Linked DNA regions of Homo sapiens: all the other regions are linked to region 2. Evidence: fine-mapped expression QTL. A gene starts in region 2. Each other region holds a variant in brackets. All regions are shown on one strand. Distances are between the middles of the regions. Region 1 overlaps MBOAT1 (membrane bound glycerophospholipid O-acyltransferase 1). Region 2 holds the start of MBOAT1 (membrane bound glycerophospholipid O-acyltransferase 1). Region 3 overlaps MBOAT1 (membrane bound glycerophospholipid O-acyltransferase 1).

What was found. PIP is the estimated chance that this variant, and not a neighbour inherited with it, causes the effect. A credible set is the group of variants that fine-mapping cannot tell apart.
Region 1: its variant is the best candidate, but not a certain one, in a credible set for the expression of MBOAT1 in whole blood (TOPMed, PIP 0.82).
Region 3: its variant is the best candidate, but not a certain one, in a credible set for the expression of MBOAT1 in subcutaneous fat (GTEx, PIP 0.77).

What each region holds. Positions count from the first base shown.
Region 1 is chr6:20,134,618-20,139,617 of GRCh38, forward strand. The region is part of intron 4 of MBOAT1 (membrane bound glycerophospholipid O-acyltransferase 1); the gene reads right to left. Among named protein-coding and RNA genes, the nearest start is that of MBOAT1, 75 kb to the right of the region's middle. The variant C/T (reference allele first, on the strand shown) is at 2,102.
Region 2 is chr6:20,210,341-20,218,031 of GRCh38, forward strand. It overlaps MBOAT1 (membrane bound glycerophospholipid O-acyltransferase 1), which reads right to left and starts at 2,129. Exons shown (of 13, transcript NM_001080480.3): 1 at 1,796-2,129. The coding sequence starts at 1,894. RefSeq lists a silencer at 1,935-2,474 and an enhancer at 2,657-3,157.
Region 3 is chr6:20,161,831-20,166,830 of GRCh38, forward strand. The region is part of intron 1 of MBOAT1 (membrane bound glycerophospholipid O-acyltransferase 1); the gene reads right to left. Among named protein-coding and RNA genes, the nearest start is that of MBOAT1, 48 kb to the right of the region's middle. The variant C/T (reference allele first, on the strand shown) is at 2,135.

The DNA.
Region 1 (5,000 bases), 77 kb before region 2:
TAGAATCTTCCTACATACTTACTTTTGTGCAGTGCAAGGAAAAGCACCATACTGTCTTTCTCAAAACAAGTTCTCTCTGAACACTTTTTAATTTGATGAATTTATTTAAACTTATGGACAGATCTGATATGAAAATGTACTTCGCCCAAGTTACTAAGACTTGAGAATCAAATCCTTAGAGTTACTGACTTAAGATAAAACTTAAGTATCATCTATGTCATACTTCAATCAAATCATAAAACAATTCAGAACACATTTATTGGTTTATGATTGGAATTCATGTTCTTTTTTTTTTTTTTTTTTTTTGCAAAAAAATACAAAACTCAGTACAGGAGAACATACTAAAAGCACAGGAAGGACAAAAAAAGGAGGAGATCCATAAATGGCTCCTTGATGCAGCCCCAACAATTTCCTTAAAATTATGAGGCCTCCGAACTTGAGCTTCACTCAGATTTTCACCTCTCCAACCTTGGATTTAAACGCACTTGTCAATCATAGGATCCAATCATAGGATCCACCATCTGACCAACCTGGAGTTGGATAGACTCCAGCATGGATGAAGTAGGGCTATTTTACTATTGTCCTATACATTTTTTTCATTATTAAAAAAAGCCAAAGAAAAATCTTATGTTTCTTCTTGAAACTAAGATCATTAGTCAAGACTAGACAATGAAATATAATAGAATAGGAAAAATTAAGAGAAAACAGGTAGCTGAAGATATGTTTGAAGTAAAAAGAAAGCTAGAACAATGCCAGCACCCCCCATTATTGCCTTCTGATACAGACTCTAGGCAATTCATCAGATGTGGTACCCATTCATTCATTCATTCCCAACATCAGCTCCTAACCAAAAATAATTTATCTTTAAAACATTAAACAAAATCTTAGATTTGAGCAATATTTCAATAAAACCTACCTATTTTACCTTAATCTTTGGACCTAAAGTGGTAGAGTTCTGATGTCCCAGTAAAGGTAGGATGGGACAATGAGATAACCCAGACATCGGTTATTGGTGTCGGAAGAGCCAACCAATCACACGTCTGGCTGGCCAGCATCAAGATGAACTGACATTCAAGCCTCTGATGTTCTCCCAACAGGTAATTTTAGAACCAAAAGGCTCTACTTCGTATCTTTATTACTTCCTTTGCTTATAATAAAAATCTACTTGTGGTACTTGGACAGTAGAAAAGCAGGAAGTCAGGCAAGCAAGAAGTTTGGCAGGGGAAGAGAATACAGATTCAACAAACTTCCACTCAACAGCAACCTAGACCGCTACTGCCATCTCGCACAACTCCAGTGGGTGCCAAGATACAATGTGACTTGTACAACCTGCAGCTCGGACCTGGTAGCGAGGGACAGAGAAAGCTCAAGCAGCATTTCCTCACCTCTCTATTGCTTCTGCCTCTCCTATACCCTCCCCACACTCCCTGAATGACTGCAGAGGAGGAGGAGGATATTACAGCTTCAGTGGAATGCTCCCAATTCTTATCAATTATGTCAGCATGAGAAAATAAGCAACTCCAGAAGTTGCAGCAAAGGAAGTACATAGTTCTACCAGGCTTCCTAGGGATGCAACTAAAGGCAGAGATCACGCCTCTGGACTCATTTCAGAGTTCATTAGTATCTATTCAGAACCATCCAGGGGTGAATTAGAGTAGGAAAGCTTTTACTCTTTTAATTTCTTCAAAAATTTAACTTCTATATTTTGGCACTCAACAACAAAATCACCAATTCTCGATTTGAATATTCTCTATATTCGAATATACTTGGTATAACTTATGTCTGCAGAATTAAATTCCAAGTGACTGTGTTAGTTATTGAAAAGCTGGCAGCAGCATGAAAAAGAAACATGAAATAAACAAATCTTGAAATCTCTTTGCAAATATCCTCTTTTTTTCCCTATTATGGAACCCAATTACTTGAACATATTGGGCTGGTCAGATGGAGTGACCAGGATGTCATAAACCAACAGAGGAAAACACTGTCCACGGAACAATAGGACAAATGATCTCTATCGCTAGCAAGAGGTACAGGCAAGTAATATTTCTATTACACCCAATTAAGGCAACAAGGAACACAAACAGCAGTTGTTCCAATTCTG[C/T]TAGCTTCAGTGCACCATAACCTTTTAACACGCATGCAAATATATTTAAATAAAATTCCAGGATTTTCTCTCACTATTATAGTAATATAAAAGAGTAGAATGAGTATTAAAATCACCAATACTGCTTTCGCATTTTCAATATTTCCTTTCACTCTTTTTCTATACATGTCCACATTAAAAAGAAAAATGCAATCTTGGGACATGTATTTGTCTTATGGTTTTTATAGTCTTTGAAAATATCATTTTCAATGGAGGCATAGTAGCACCATAATTTAATCATTCATCTCTTTTAGACCATTTAGGATGTTTCTGGTTTATCACCATTATTGACAACAGCTGAACATCTTTATGAATAAATTTTGATTTCCTTATGGTAATTTAACTCCTAGGAATTTATCCTATCATAGGATATGAACTTTAAAAAAAAAATCTTGTTTGAAATTGATGGTGAAACTGCCTTCCAGAAGAGTTATGCCAGTTTACACTCCCACTAGCAGTACATAAGAGTTCTCATTTCACAGTGTTTACAACAACATGTGGGCAAATCAACCTGCAATCGTGATGGGAGAGCAATTATCTGCCTGAATCTGGCCTACCATGGCAAAAGGAAATAAGAGTTCTTGCTGGGGCCCTCCAAAGAAAACTCGATTTGCACCCTTCTGTGAGCAAAAAGGAAGAATCAGTTTGCTCTCACAAACCTAAAAGGAACTAAGTACCAGCTGTATTACAAGCAATCATTGAGCTTCCCCCAGGAGAACAGGAAATATTCTAGTGCTTTTAACAGCCCACATTCACCACAGAGAAAACATAAAGGACATTCACCACCGCATGTATTGATATGAATTGTATTAGCAGCACCAATAAAAGTGTATCTTGTTTGTTTCCCTTACCATTAATTCCAGTCCAGTCCATGAAAACTTGATTACTCTTGGAATGAAAAATACAATTTCAAGTCCCAGAATAATCTAAAATACAAGTTTATGTGTTCCCCAAAATTAAACACACACACACACACACACACACACGTTGTTTAACACAAACACTAACCTCATCCCATCCCATCCAATTCCTGTCTGTGCTCTTATTCTGAAGGCATAATAAAGTATGCTAAACATTTAGGTTTGCATGCATGCTCAAAAGAGAATGGCTATACATCAGGCTGCTTTAAAACACCAGGTTCAACTTCAAAATACTACTTTATCTCTTGACAAAATCCGAAACAAGATATTTCAACTGCAATAGTAGGGTTAAATCAATTCCATTCTGATGAACTTGTGGTTTGCTCGCATGCCTGTAATGAGAATAAACACTGGTAAAATACCTCTCTAACTGGCAATTTGTGATTTAAAACATTTTGTCAATTTCAGGTTGGTATGTACTCTCCATGGATGTTAACTGACATTACCCAGGAAGAGGGATTTATGGTAGTGAGGCAGCCTGCCTTTACGGTGGTAGGGAAAAATAACACTGCTTAATAATGACAAAAAGAAAAAAAGACAACATACCCTTCGAGAACTAGATAGTAGGGCCACTCAGTAATCACAGAACTGAATCACATGCAATTTTCAGGCGGATTTTTTTTCTGTATTATTTCCCTAACAACAATGTCCTTTCTAGTTTAAATATTCTGTAGTTTTGTGGGTAACATCAGAGATTTCTTACTACGAGGAGATCCAAAAAATGCCAGAAAATAAACATCTCTTGAGGACATTTATCAAGACTATGTGGCTGAAAGTGAGGTTGACAGGAACTGATTTCCATGCTCCTCTTGTGTCAAACCCCCAAATCCACGATGTTCAGAAGCACGTGACTGTTTTCCACAAATGCCCTTTATTTTTTCCCTTTGATAATTTCAGAATTCTGATTACATTCAAAATGATGTAGAAATTATTCAAGAGTTTATGGTTTTAATAAAACAAATGGAGATGTGACAAGAACAGCCAGAGATGCAGACGGTAGAGGCATCCTTATCCTGTATGATCAGGATCAGGGGACGGTTGTTAATTCATCAAAAGGTGGGGAATCATAAAACAACGCACATGAGCTTCCTAGGGCTGCTGTGAGAAATTACAAGCTGGGTGGCTTACAACAACAAAAATGTCTTCTCTCACAGTTCTTGAGGTTAAAAGTCCAAAATCAAGATATCTGCAGGACTGGTTCCTTCTGCAGGCGCTGAGAGAGAATCTGTTCCATTCTCCTTCCTTGCTTCCGGTGACTGACGGCAACCCTTGAGCTCCCGGGCTTGCGTCTGCATTACTCCAATGTCGGCCTCCATCTTGACATGGCCGTCTTCCCTGTATGCATGTGTGTGAGTCTGTCCCTCATGGCTTTCTTACCAGGACACAGTCGTACTGGATCTAGGGCCCACTCTAATCCAGTGTGACCTGATCTGTTTGTTTGGGTTTTTATTTTGTTTGTTTGTTTTGAGACCAAGTCTCACCCTGTCGCCCAGGCTGGAATGCAGTGGTGTGGTCTCCGCTCCCTACAACCTCCACCTCCTGGGTTCAGGCGATTCCCCTGCTTCAGCCTCCCATGTAGCTGTGGGACTACAGGCATGCGCCACCACGCCCTGCTAATTTTTGTATTTTTTGTAGAGACGGGGTTTCACCATGTTGGACAGGCTGGTTTCCATCTCCAAGTCTCCCAAAGTGCTGAGATTACAACTGTGAGCAACGGTGCCCCGCCCAATGTGACCTCATCTTATCTTAACTAATTGCATCTGCAAAGACTATTTCCAAATAAGGACATATTCTGAGGTGCTGGGTGGACATGAATCTTGGGAGGACACTCTTCAACCCAGTACACAAAAATACACTCACATTTTAACCTTTTTTTTTTTTTTTTTTTTTTTTTTGAGACAGGGTCTTGCTCTGTTGCCCAGGTGGAGTACAGTGGCATT
Region 2 (7,691 bases):
ACAAAGCTTCCAAACTCGCAAGCCACAACGTAGCCTCAAACGACCTTATTTATGGTTTGGGGATTTTCCTTGGGCCTAAAATAAGCTACCTGGGGCACTGCCTTTTAAGTGCTTCTTCCACCAAGGGTCATCCACACTCACTCCTGCTGGAGGGTGGTCAGACTGACCTAAGAGCTAAGAGATCTCAGGTGCTCCTGGCCATGGCAAACATTTCTCCTTCGGTTTATCCCAGAAGTCTCTCCCTCCCTCCCTCCCTCCCTCCCTCCCAGTTTTAAACATTCCTAAGGCTCTTTTGTTCCTTTTTATGAATTAAAACCAGAATTACCTTTATAGGAAAGTAGGGGATGCAATTGAAAGACATTAAAAACATTATTCTAGCACCTCCCAGCCATAACTTGCCATGGTCCTTTAGCCATACAAAAAGCCTTCCTGGAGTCTTTCTAGCTGTGTAGAAGAGCTTAGAAGAGAAAATGCAATTAAAATACCTTCTGATAGGGAGTGGAGAGGTAAGTACAAAACAAACTCCCCTTAAGGAAATTCAGCTATGAGTTTTATTTAATTTCAGAACTAAAGAATTTGCTATTATGTCCGCCTCTGCCTGGGTCCCTGGGTCTATCTCATCCTCACCAGAAACTAAAGAGTAATTTACAAAAGCACAAATGCTTTGGCACCGAAACCCTTCCCAAGTTTCTGACTTTCTGTATTCTGCAACTGATGAGAACGCAATGGTCACATCAGGTGGAGTTCTCAGTCAGGTCCTCAGAGTGAGCCAGGTATGAGGGTGGCTCAGTAAACAGGACCCGAATAAGGCAAATGTCCAGGTCTCACTTTCTCATTGCTGAAGGGGTGTGCGCAAAGGGCAGCAGGTGTGCTCTTGTTAAAAGGAAAGGAAAAGGAGCACTGGTGAGAGGAAGGGGAAGAAAACCAGGCAAAAAAGCATGAAACAAAACAGGAGCGCAGTGGGTCCTCCCCCAGCATGCCCTGCCCAATTCTATTTAAATCAACATTTACTGATTGGGTCACTACTAAGTATCCCGCAGATCTAGCCTGCAGCACCTGAAGAGACAAGGAAATGAGTAAGACGGGCTTCATCTTCAGGAAGGTTTCTTGCCAGGAATCACTGTTGTTGCCATTTTTAATTTTAATGGTTGTAGATAATTCCTGGACAGTTCAAATAACTTCACTGGGGCCCCTCTCCTCCCCCTAACCTGTCCTACTCAGAAGCTCCAGCCCCAGGCATATGAGCCAACCGAACCCTGGGAAAACCAAAGTGTCCTTGTGTGTCCCGCATCACACACGGTACAAAATAACTGTCACCCCTGAACAAGCCTCGCCTCAGAAGTCTAAAACCCAGGTCCTGCATTCAAAATCTATAGACTACCGTCTACAGATTCATCGCGCTTGTTTTTTAAGTAGGGTCATCTAAATTAAAAACAATAACGACTTGAGGACACTGATGAAAGAAACACTGGTTTCATGTATCAGACTACTTCAGAACTTGATTACAGGAAACGAGGCAATCCCAAACTTAAAGAAAAAAAAGTTCAGTAGAACTTGCCGCGCAGGCTGTACCAATATTTTTTCACACTTACAAGGAGAAAAACACTAACACCAACTCAAGAAGGGAAAACACACACACACACACACACACACACACACACACAAAAACCAACTGTCTAGTGTGTGGCTGTAAAATACGCCATGGAGGCGGAGGGACGGTGGCTAACACTTTCGCCCGCCCCGTGCACGCGATCGCTGGGGAGCTGGGGTCGCTGCGCTCCCGGCCTGCAGTTACCTGGTCCAGCGGGATGCCCAGGAGCTCGCTGAGCGGGTGCAGGTAGGTGGAGCCCGTGGTGCGGTAGGAAAGGCTGGACGGCTGCGGCTCTGCTGCCATCCTGCATCTTCGGGAGGTGGCTGCCCCTGTCCCAGCCCGCAACACCCCCTGCTCGGCGTCCTCCCGCCCGGGTGCTCTTGGGTGGTTGCCCCGAGAGGCGCACGGCCGCCTGGTTCGCGGGGGAGCGAACGGGAGGCCGGGGAATGCGAACCGGCGCAAACTCTCGAGGCGCAAACTCTCGAGGCGCAAACTTGGCTTTGGCGCTGGCGCTGCAGCCACGGGCGCCGTAGGAGGGCCGGGCCCAAGGCGCCCCGCTTCCCGCTCCCTTCCTCTCCGCGCCCATTGGCCCGGCCGCTCGGGACGGCCCCGAGAGGAGGGAAGGAGGGAGGAAAAGTGGGGACTCCGAGCCCGGCCCCCAAGCGCCGCCCGGCCCGCCCAGCCTGGCCTGCACCGAGGCCGACCGGGAGAGGGAAAGCGACGCCAGCGGGCGCCGCCGCCTGGCCCTGCAGCTGGAGGCGGGACGCGCCTTTCCTCCTCCCGGGCTGACCGTCCTAGCCCCCCGCCAGACAAAACGACCTCACCCAGCGGGCGCCTTCCACTAGAGAGCACCACCCACCCCGCCCCACCCTGTTTTGGTTTCGCCGCCGCAGTCGAAGCGGCTGAGTGGCTGCGTTTCCCTTTCAAGCCGTAGAGGGTTCCTCTGCCGGTGGCTGGAAGCTGGAGCGCCGCAGCCACCAGACTCCCTACTTCCTTTACCCTCCTCTGCGCTAGGCATAGTTTCCTACACCCTGATCTGACATGTTCGGTGTCACACAAGCAAATACAGGGGACTGCTAGCTTCGGGTCACTTCCGTCTCTGTGGAGTGAGAGTTATTTCACCTCTGTAAGAAACGGTGTTTACTGTCATACTATGTGCATTCTGATAAGTCATTTGCATGCCACGGGTCCTCAAAAAGGGTGCCTTGCTCCTTAACTTGTCTGCCCCCGAACACCCACACATCAATGTTACTTGGAAAACTTTTCCAAGTTATTGCTAGGTTCTGAGAAACATAAAAATCTTGAAGATCCTTTTCAGGAATCGCTAGCTGATGAAAAAGGGTTTCAGGAAGGTAATATTCTGGGCTGCTGGGTAGAAAACCAAAGAAAGTGAGCTCACGTGGCCCCCAGCCTCCGCTGGGTAAACCGGCATTCGATCAGACAGGCAATGACTTTCGGGGCCGACTTTATCAATGTGGCCTCCAGCTTCAAATTAAACCGAAGGCCTGTCAGGCACTGGCAACAACTTACTCTCCAAGACTCAGGCCTCACTCTTGCCTTCTTCAGGAGTTTTATCACCATCAAACTGCACTGAGCATTAAATTGCCAGGCCAGAGTTTCTCAACCTATGTCCCCTGTGGAGGAGGAAAAAAAAAAGTCTGTACCACCACTCCCACAAGCTAACCGAATGGAGATGTCACCACCAGATGATAATCTCTACCACTCACAAGCAAACCCACACTACAGACAGACAGACACATGCACACACGCACACAGGCATATACTTGAGGATCACTAGGCTAGATAGGTTCATTTAATATCATAGAGTCCTGGAAAATGACCAGCATTGGAGCAACATTCATCTTATCTGGAGCTAGATGACAGCTGAAGTGAGGTATATGAGAGCAGACGGAGCTTTGTTTAAAAGGAAAAAAAAATCAACACTCAGATATGAGTTGCTGGAAAACAGAAGTAGGTCAGTTTGGGAAGTATTTCTGGAGCAAGTGCCTCAGACCCTTTATAATTTTCACAAAGCTATGCCTTTTAGACTTCAAAGAATAGTCCTCACATAGGCCATATATATATATGTGTGTGTGTGTGCGTGTGTATATATATTTATTATAAATATATTAATTTATATAATCATATATAAATATATTTATATATGTAAAGTTTTATATGTACATATATTAGCCTTACACAGGTTTATATATACATATATTACACAGTTTTTATATATATATATAACACAGGTTTGATATATACATATGTATATATGTATATGTAAAATATATACATGTATTAGCCTTACACAGGTTTTTTTCTCCCTAACAAAACACAGTTCATAACCTAGTCTAAATTTTTCTTTTAAAAATGGCCGGGTGCGGTGGCTTATGCCTGTAATCCCAGCATTTTGGGAGGCCGAGGCGGGCAGATCACCTGAGGTCAGGAGTTCGAGACCAGCCTGGCCAACATGGTGAAACCCCATCTCTACCAAAAAACAAAAATTAGCCAGGTGTGGTGGCAGGCACCTGTAATCCCAGCTACTTGGGAAGCTGAGGCAGGAGAATCGCCTGAACCCAGGGGACGGAGGTTTCAGTGAGCAGAGATCACGCCACTGGACTCCAGTCTGGCTAACAGAGCAAGACTCCATCAAAAAAAAAAATAAAAATAAAAATGTAGTAACTATGGTTAGAGCTTATAAACAAAATGTCACAGAACTTAATAGTTCTTTTCTCTTGATACTGTAGTACAATTAATGCAAAAAAAAATACTACTGTTGGATAACTCAGAACCAAGAGAGTAGCTCTGTTACACTACAGATGAATGAAACACACTTTGAAGAAGTTGTTTATATGAGTCCAAGATGTATAACAGCGGCACCATGGACACATTGCTCTTTTCCTTCATCAGTATCTCTATTTCCATCCTCTGTCAACTGTAGGTTCACAATAATTATTATCATATGTTAGAAATCACTTTACAAAAGCTGTTTCATTTACCAGTGCTAATAATCCTGTGGTAGTTATAAGAATCTATTTTATAGATGTGAAACCTGGGGTTAAGGGAGCTTAAGTGACTTGGTTGTATTTAGGGAGGTTAAGTAAAATGTGTCTGTCTGATTCCAGAGCCTGGGCTCTTTATTCATTATGCATTGCCTCCTCTAAAACATAGTATTTTTCTCTTTATCAAGAGGCCAGCCCACACACCTGATACAACCTTGTCATTTTTGTAGACGAGACATTACATTTACCATTCAAAATGAGGTGGTAGGGGTGATGCCACAGACACGCTGTCTCTCCTGTTTTCTATTTGCAGTAGAGTGAGGCTTGATATCAAGGTCAGTTTTATGAATCTTCCCTATGGAACCATGCTCAGAATGTGACATTATCCAGGAGATCCACTGCACATCCTGAAGACAGGTCAAAAAATTAAAGCCAGGCACAAAAAAACCTGAAAAAGATTCTAGCATATTGGGAAGGGCTGCATGTTACCATGGACTAATAAAAACTCTACAAACTGCTGTAGAGTCACTAGGCTTTGGCAGAGTGCCTAAGGAGTTCCTAAAGAAGTGAAGTATTCTGATTTTAAGTAGATAAACTCCATGCCATTCTATCATGGATATTCAGAGGCACTTTCCATTCTTCCTACTTCACATACCAAATCAAATCAAACAACATAACTGATAATCAAAGAACAAAACTGAATTAAATACATCCTCAAAGTTTACAAAGGTATAATCCCTCAAGGAGATAAAACTCTAATGATACCTTCAGTCTATATTCAACCAAAAACAATCACCAATAAAACTAAATTTAAGCCATCTGAAATGATATAACCCATGTAAAAAAAGAATTACCATTTTAATAATACTACATATTAATGTAATGATACTATATATTCACAGAGCACACTCACTTATCCCCTTTGATCCTCCCAACAACTCTATGAAGTTGGAAGGGCAGGTGTTATTATCATTTGTATTATCATGTCATCTCAATTTTTATTCAAATGAATACTGTTTCTAATAAATTGCAGCTAGCTTATCCATCTAGTAAACAGCAAGTGTAGGGTTCAAACTTGGGTATTCTACTGTTCTTTTTAACTATACAGAAATCTTTTTATTATACTTTTTATTATACTAGGAGTATAATACTATTTTCCTTCAGGAAAATAGCAGAAATTGTTGCCTGCATAGGACATTAAATTCCAGGCTTAACATTTGAGAGCTGATCTGAAGAATGGTCAAAATTGACCCATGATAGGTATCACCATTGTTTTCTGAGCAGTTTCTTTAAGCATCATCCACAAAGCTTCAGGTAATTTATGTTTTTCAATCAATGATGTATTCCTTCATGTTTTAGCTCAACTGATGTGTGTTTGCTTGGAACATATATTGCAACCTGCCTACCCAACATATTTTCCAAGCTTGGGATCACAGTTAAACATTGTACATGTTCAGAAAATGAAGAAACTAATATAACTGAACATCTGCCAGATTTAGCTATGACTGCTATGTTATAGCATTTTTTGCTTAAGAATACTGTATTAGACCAGGAATTAACAGGTGCAGTGGCTCATGCCTGCAATTCTGACACTTTGGGAGGCCAAAGTAGGAAGATGTCCTGAGGCCAGGAGGCCAAGAACTCAGCCTTTAGAGCAAAACAACCGGGTATGAAAAACCAGTACTGCCTTTTACTAGTTTGGGGACTTTGAGCAAATCAATGAACTTCATGAAGGCCCAGCTTCCTCCTCTGTAAAATAGGAATAAGAATAATGATCCCTTGCAGCAGGTCTAAGAACTGGAGGAGAGATTTTGTTCAAAAAACATAAAAGAACTGAAGCTTACCCTTTCTGCACTAATGTTTCATTTTTGCCTTAGTTTTAGGCAAGGGAGATCTTTCTAAAATGCATTGCACGTGACCCTGAATACTAAAACAGAGTTAGTGATCTTAGCTTAATCATTACTGATGACTCAGGCATTATTGTGAACAAGAACCCATCCTGCAATACAGCAATGTCTTGAAGTCCACTGACACATCAAGAGTTTGTCCTTGCAGCCGGGCGTGGTAGCTCACGCCTGTAATCCTGGCACTTTGGGAGGCTGAGGTGGGCAGATCACCTGAGGTCAGGAGTTCGAGACCAGCCTGGCCAACATGGGGAAACCGTGTCTCTACTAAAAATACAAAAATTAGCCAGGCATGGTGGCACATGCCTGTAATCCCAGCTACTAGGGAGGCTGAGGCCAGAGAATCACTTGAACCCGGGAGGCGGAGGTTGTGGTGAGCCGAGATCGTGCCATTGCACTCCAGCCTGGACAAAAGTGAAACTGTCTCAAAAAAAGAAAAAAAAAAAAAAAGAGTTTGTCCTTGCTCTAAACTATGCCCAGAGAGGTACACTTTCTCAACTACTGTGTCTACTTTCTAGTTTTTCCATTTCCCCTTCTGCTCTTGTATTTCACTTGTCCCTGCCTTGCCTGCTACTTTGGTTCCCCTGTGAACTGGGGAGCTCTACGAATTGCCGTAGAGTCACTCGGCTTTGGCAGAGTGCCTAAGGAGCTCCTAAAAAAGTAAAGTATTTTTATTTTAAGCAGATAAACTCCAAGCCATTCTATCCTCCACGCCATTGTTTCAGAGGCACTTTCCATACCTCCTACTTCTTTGACTGTGTTCCAAATAGTTACTATTGCCAAAGTGTCCTATGAATAGCAAAGTGTGATTGAAGATAATGTTTGAGTACATAAAGACAGACAAAAACCTGTGCTACCCAGATTCCATGGTTGGCTGCAGTAAGAAAAAAGAGCAAGCTGGGGCTTTGCCTAATGCCCTGGAGCCGCTGGGTATTGGGAGGTGCTTGGCCCCACCCTCCCTGTCCTCTACCCTAACTCCACCTTGGGTGTTGTTGCTGAGGCCACTGTCACCTTAGGCTTCAGGGAGCTGCATAGTGTTAACCCCTCGACCCAAGACTTTATATTTGCCTTGGAGACCAATTGGAATCTCCCTCAACTCTTGTATTTTTCCCTTACTTTTCACTCTGTTCTGCGGCCCACTTCCCAGGGCCAATGATAGTACCAAGCACAACAATGTTTTGGAATGAATGG
Region 3 (5,000 bases), 50 kb before region 2:
CTGTATTCATTTTCTAGGGCTGCCATGACAAAATACCAAAAACTGGAGGGTGGGTTGGGGGGCAAAACACAACAGAAATTTATTTTTCTCCCAGTTCAGGAGGCTGGTATCTGAGATTGAGGGTGTCGGCAGGGTTGGTTTCTTCTGAGACCTCTGTCCTTGGCTCCAGATGGCCGTCTTCTCCCTGTGTCTTCCCTGTGTGTGTGTCTGTGTCCTAATCTCTTCTTACAAGGATACCGGTCATGTTGGATTAGGACCCACTGTAATGACTTTCTTCACTACTAAGTTATTAATAACTTAATGACTGCTTTGAAAGCCCTGTCTCAAATACAGCCACATTCTGAGGGACTCGGGGTTTAGGACTTCAACATTTAAATTTTGGGGGAACACATTTGGCCCACAACACTGCCCAATAAAAATCCTCTACTCAAACCCACGGAATGAAACACACTTCATTTTCTTTGCACCTACAGCTAGGAAGCAGGTAAGACTCAAAGCAAAGGCTGCGTGGGATGCTGGGAGCCTCGGAGCTTCCCATCTGCCTGGAGGTGCCTCAGCCACTACAGACAGCACCAGAGAGGGTTCTCCCAGCTCCTGTGTGTGTCAGGAGCTTGTTAACCTATAATGGGTACAATGGGCTTACACATGTTGAGAAAGTTCATTATCCTTTGACCTTTGTTTAAAACATACAAGTTTTGAAGCAATAATAATCAGCATTTATTAAACACATATTATGTGCTGGAGTCTCCACAAATGTTGGCTGTTATTCTGCATGCTTCACATCTACTGTCTCATTTAATCTTCTTGACAACTCTCGATGTGCTACTGAGAAAACTCGCACAAAGTCAATGGCCCCAAAACCCTCAGCTGTAGGGCAGCTCCATTAGTCAAACTGAGAGGCTTAGGTTGCCTGCAGTGGCCTCTCAAGATCTCATTCTTGTACAAGGGAAAATTTGAATTAAACTGATAGAGCTGAAAGTCCTTTCCAACAACTGTTCTTTGAGGCATGTGTAAACCCTCTGTCTGTAGTTTGTATAGTCATGAACCAAGCTTCTTTCCATCAGTGCTGGGTACATCCTCCAGTCCCTCTAGAATGGGATAATCCCTCCTTTAATGCTCAGAGAAAGAGTCCTTATACACTTAGAGATTAAATTGTACAGGGAGACTTTTGGCTTACCTTATTTTGCAAATATCATGTCACATGGATTAGTTATGATTTAGAACGAAAGCCCTTTAAAAACTTACTCCAATGGCTAAAAGGTGGAAAACGATTGTGCTGTCTCTTTAGGCTTCGAGGCAAGAAAAAATCCTGAAGTACATAGGTGATATCTACGTATTTCAGCCTGCCTCCTATCCCATAAATCAAATCCTTATAATCCTTGGCCCAGCAGGCAGGGAAGACTGTATAAAACTCAGGACCATTTAGGACTCTTAAAAAACCCTGTCCACAAGCACGCTGTTACTCCTCACCTCTGGAAAGAAAACATTCCCATTAAATTCCACTGTTAACCAGTTAAAAATGTTAATATTATTCATACTTTATTGTTAATAATATTAACATTGGCTAGCATTAATGTGCTGCTGACTACCTCCCAGGAACTGTTTTCATTCCTTCTGCCTGTATAATTCCTTTTATCTTGACAACTTTTGATGTGCTTTGAGGCTTCCATTTTACAGATATGGAAATTCAGTCATGGAGAGGTTAGAAAATTTACCCAAAATCATACACCCAGTCAGTGGCAACACTGGAATTTAATCTCAGGGAGTCTGGTTCTACTCAGGCACAACCTTCTCGCATGATTCAATATCTCACTTTCCAGATGAAGGAACTGGAGCCCCGAGCCAGTACGTGACCTGGCCTGGGTCACACAGCCTCTGAACATCAGAGTTAAGACCAGAACTCAGGTGTCCTGACTCCAGTCCAGCATGCCTTCTGATGATTCCCCAGCAGCCCTGGAGGTGAGGTGGGAGAAAATTGGGGTACAGAGGGTCAGAAGGGGCCCATCTAAAAATAAGAGCCTGAGTAAAGAATTCTGGGCCTCCATAAGGAGTGAGGGGCACACACTGCTGAAGGGATCCCACTGAATAAGGAGGTGGAATGTTAGGGGGTGATTTTACAACCTTGACCGGGGCC[C/T]GGGATGTCAAGTTTTATACAGATAGAGATCACTACCAATGGCATGTTTGTATGTGCATGTGTCTGAATAATGTGTGTGCATAATATATATTTTTAATATGTGTATATATTATGTACATAATATATACTTATGTTTACTATATAATGTGTGTGTATAAAATCTATATATAATACAAATATATGTATTTAATATAGAATGTATGTGCATGTACACACACACACACACACACACACACACACAAACACACCCCATATATATGTAACCTGAAATTTTTCCTGTGGCTCAGGTCCACCCAGTTGGGCCTGGAGTCACCTTCTTTCAGTCTGGTTCCATCATGAAAAGTAACCTCAAATAAGAGACTTACAAGGTTAAGTGGGTATGTGGGATACTAATAACATCTACCCTACCAGATTGTGGTGGGCACTAAATGGAACGTGAAAGTACTACAAAAGTACTTTATATACTACTTTAAAAGAACTATAAAGCTTCACAAGTATTAGATAGGCTACAAAGTGTACAGTAGCTAACTAGCAGGACTTCTCAACATAGCAGCTCTCAACACTGGAATCAACCAAAGATCTGTTTTTTTGAAAAATTAAAATTTAAAGTGACTGATTTTAGAATCCTAATCCAGATCAGAATTTGTGGGAGGTTGGGGGATAAGGCATCTTTTAAAAAAATTTTTTTTAAGTTCCAAGGTGATTTTAATATTCAGCCAGGGCTGAGATCCACAGCTTCAACTTCTAATGCCAACCGGGAAGAAAGAGGCAGCTTAGCGAGTGTATGTTAGAGTACAGACAGTCCCTGACTTATTTATGATGGTTCGACTTACGATTTTTCAACTTTAAGATGGTGTGAAAGTGACTTGCATTCAGTAGAAACCGAACTTTGAGTAGCCATATGACCATTTTGTGTTTCACTCTCAGTACAGTATTCAACAAATTACATGAGATACTCAACACTTTATTATAAAATAGGCTTTGTGATAGATTATTGCCTACCTGTAGTGTTCTGAGCATATTTAAGATAGGGTAGGCTAAGCTATGATATTGATAGGTTGGGCATATTAAATGCATTGTTTGATTTTTCTGATATTTTCAACTTAGAGTGGGTTTTTTAGGATGTAACTCCATCGTCAGTTGAGGAGCATCTGTAATTAAAGATTTAAATCAGGCATAAAATAGACAAGAGAAGCTAGGACTATTAGCAATTATCTGATCCAAGCCCCTCATTTTGTGGGTAAGGAAACCGGTACATAGAGGGGAAAGGTTACTGTGGCCAGATTCTCCTGACTCCGTGGTCCAATCTGCTTCCACTTTGTAAATGGATTCAAAACTACATGTCCAACATTAACTACAACATCTGTATTGCTTGATACTTTTTTGAGAGCTAGTCCACTCCATACACCCTGCTTCACGAACCTGCAGAGGGGCTATGAGAAACATTTGGCACACTGTGTACCCAACTCTACGCAGAAGGCTTAAAATGAATAGTGGACTGGGTGCAATGGCTCACACCTGTAATCCTAGCACTTTGGGAGGCTGAGGCGGGTGGATCACTTGAGGTCAGGAGTTCAAGCCCAGCCTTTCCAATATGGTGAAACCCCATCTCTACTAAAAATACAAAAATTAGCCAGGCATGGTGGCACACACCTGTAATCCCAGCTACTCAGGAGGCTAAAGCAGGAGAATCGCTTGCACCCAGGAGGCGGAGGCTGCAGTGAGCCGCGATCGTGCCAGTGCACTCCAGCCTGAGCAACAGAGCAAGACTCTGTTTCAAAAAAAAAAAAAAAGAATAGGGAAACCAGTTTGGTTAGAATAGGTAAAAGTCATCTGAGCTAATTAACCCAACATCCTATGTTCCAAAGATAGAATGAAACATATAAGAACTGCAGGTCCTTCCAGGCATCTAGGAGAACTACATACAAATGAAGTCCATTAAAAGAAGCCATAGAGTTCATTTTTTAGCTAATTTCATTTTATTATAAAATTAATGAATGCTCATTTAAAAAAAATGAACAATACAGAGATGTACATGAGAGAAGTTCACAGATCCCTCATAATCCCAACCTTCTATATCTAGCATGCATCTTCCTCTTTAGCAGATGGAGCATACACTTTAATACTGTTTCCTATATTTACTTTCAAAATCCAAAAATATACCCATATGCATTGATTTCTCCTTTACTTTATCATAACCATGGTATAAAAACTACACTGTAACTTGTTTTTCATTCAACAAAAGATGGACATCTTTCCAAGTCAACTCATACTGAGCTAGCTTGTACTTTTTAAAGCTGTATAATATTCCACACAGTATGGCAGGTGTGGTGAACTTAGATTTTCATAGAGAGAGGTTTATCTTTACTCCATTCCCTAGGAGGGAAAATACGGAAGGAACATTTCCCCTTTTTCTCCGCCCTAACTCCCTCCCACTCTCCTTCCCAGGGAAGGAGGAATGACTTAATTAGCCAGCTGCTAAATTGAGAAGAGACACTGAGCAGGCCCAGCTCAGGCCTTTGGGGACTTCTCTCTTTGGGAGCCAGCATGCCTTTAGACAAAGGTATTCTCTGTTCTGTGCTCCCTGCACAGAGTTGTTGCACATGTTGTCCTGCCTGGAGTGGTCTTGGAGTGTCTGCTCAGCAGCATCAGTAATTGGGTGGCCAAATCAGTGTCATTCAAGGATAAAGTAGGAAATCTGCCAGGCGTGATGCTATAATCCCAGCACTTTGGGAGGCCGAGGCGGGAGGATGGTTTGAGCTCAAGAGTTCAAGACCAGCCTGGGCAAGAGAGTAAGACCTCATCTCCATGAAAAATTTAAAAAATTACCCAAGCATGATGACTTGCACCTGTAGTCCTAGCTACT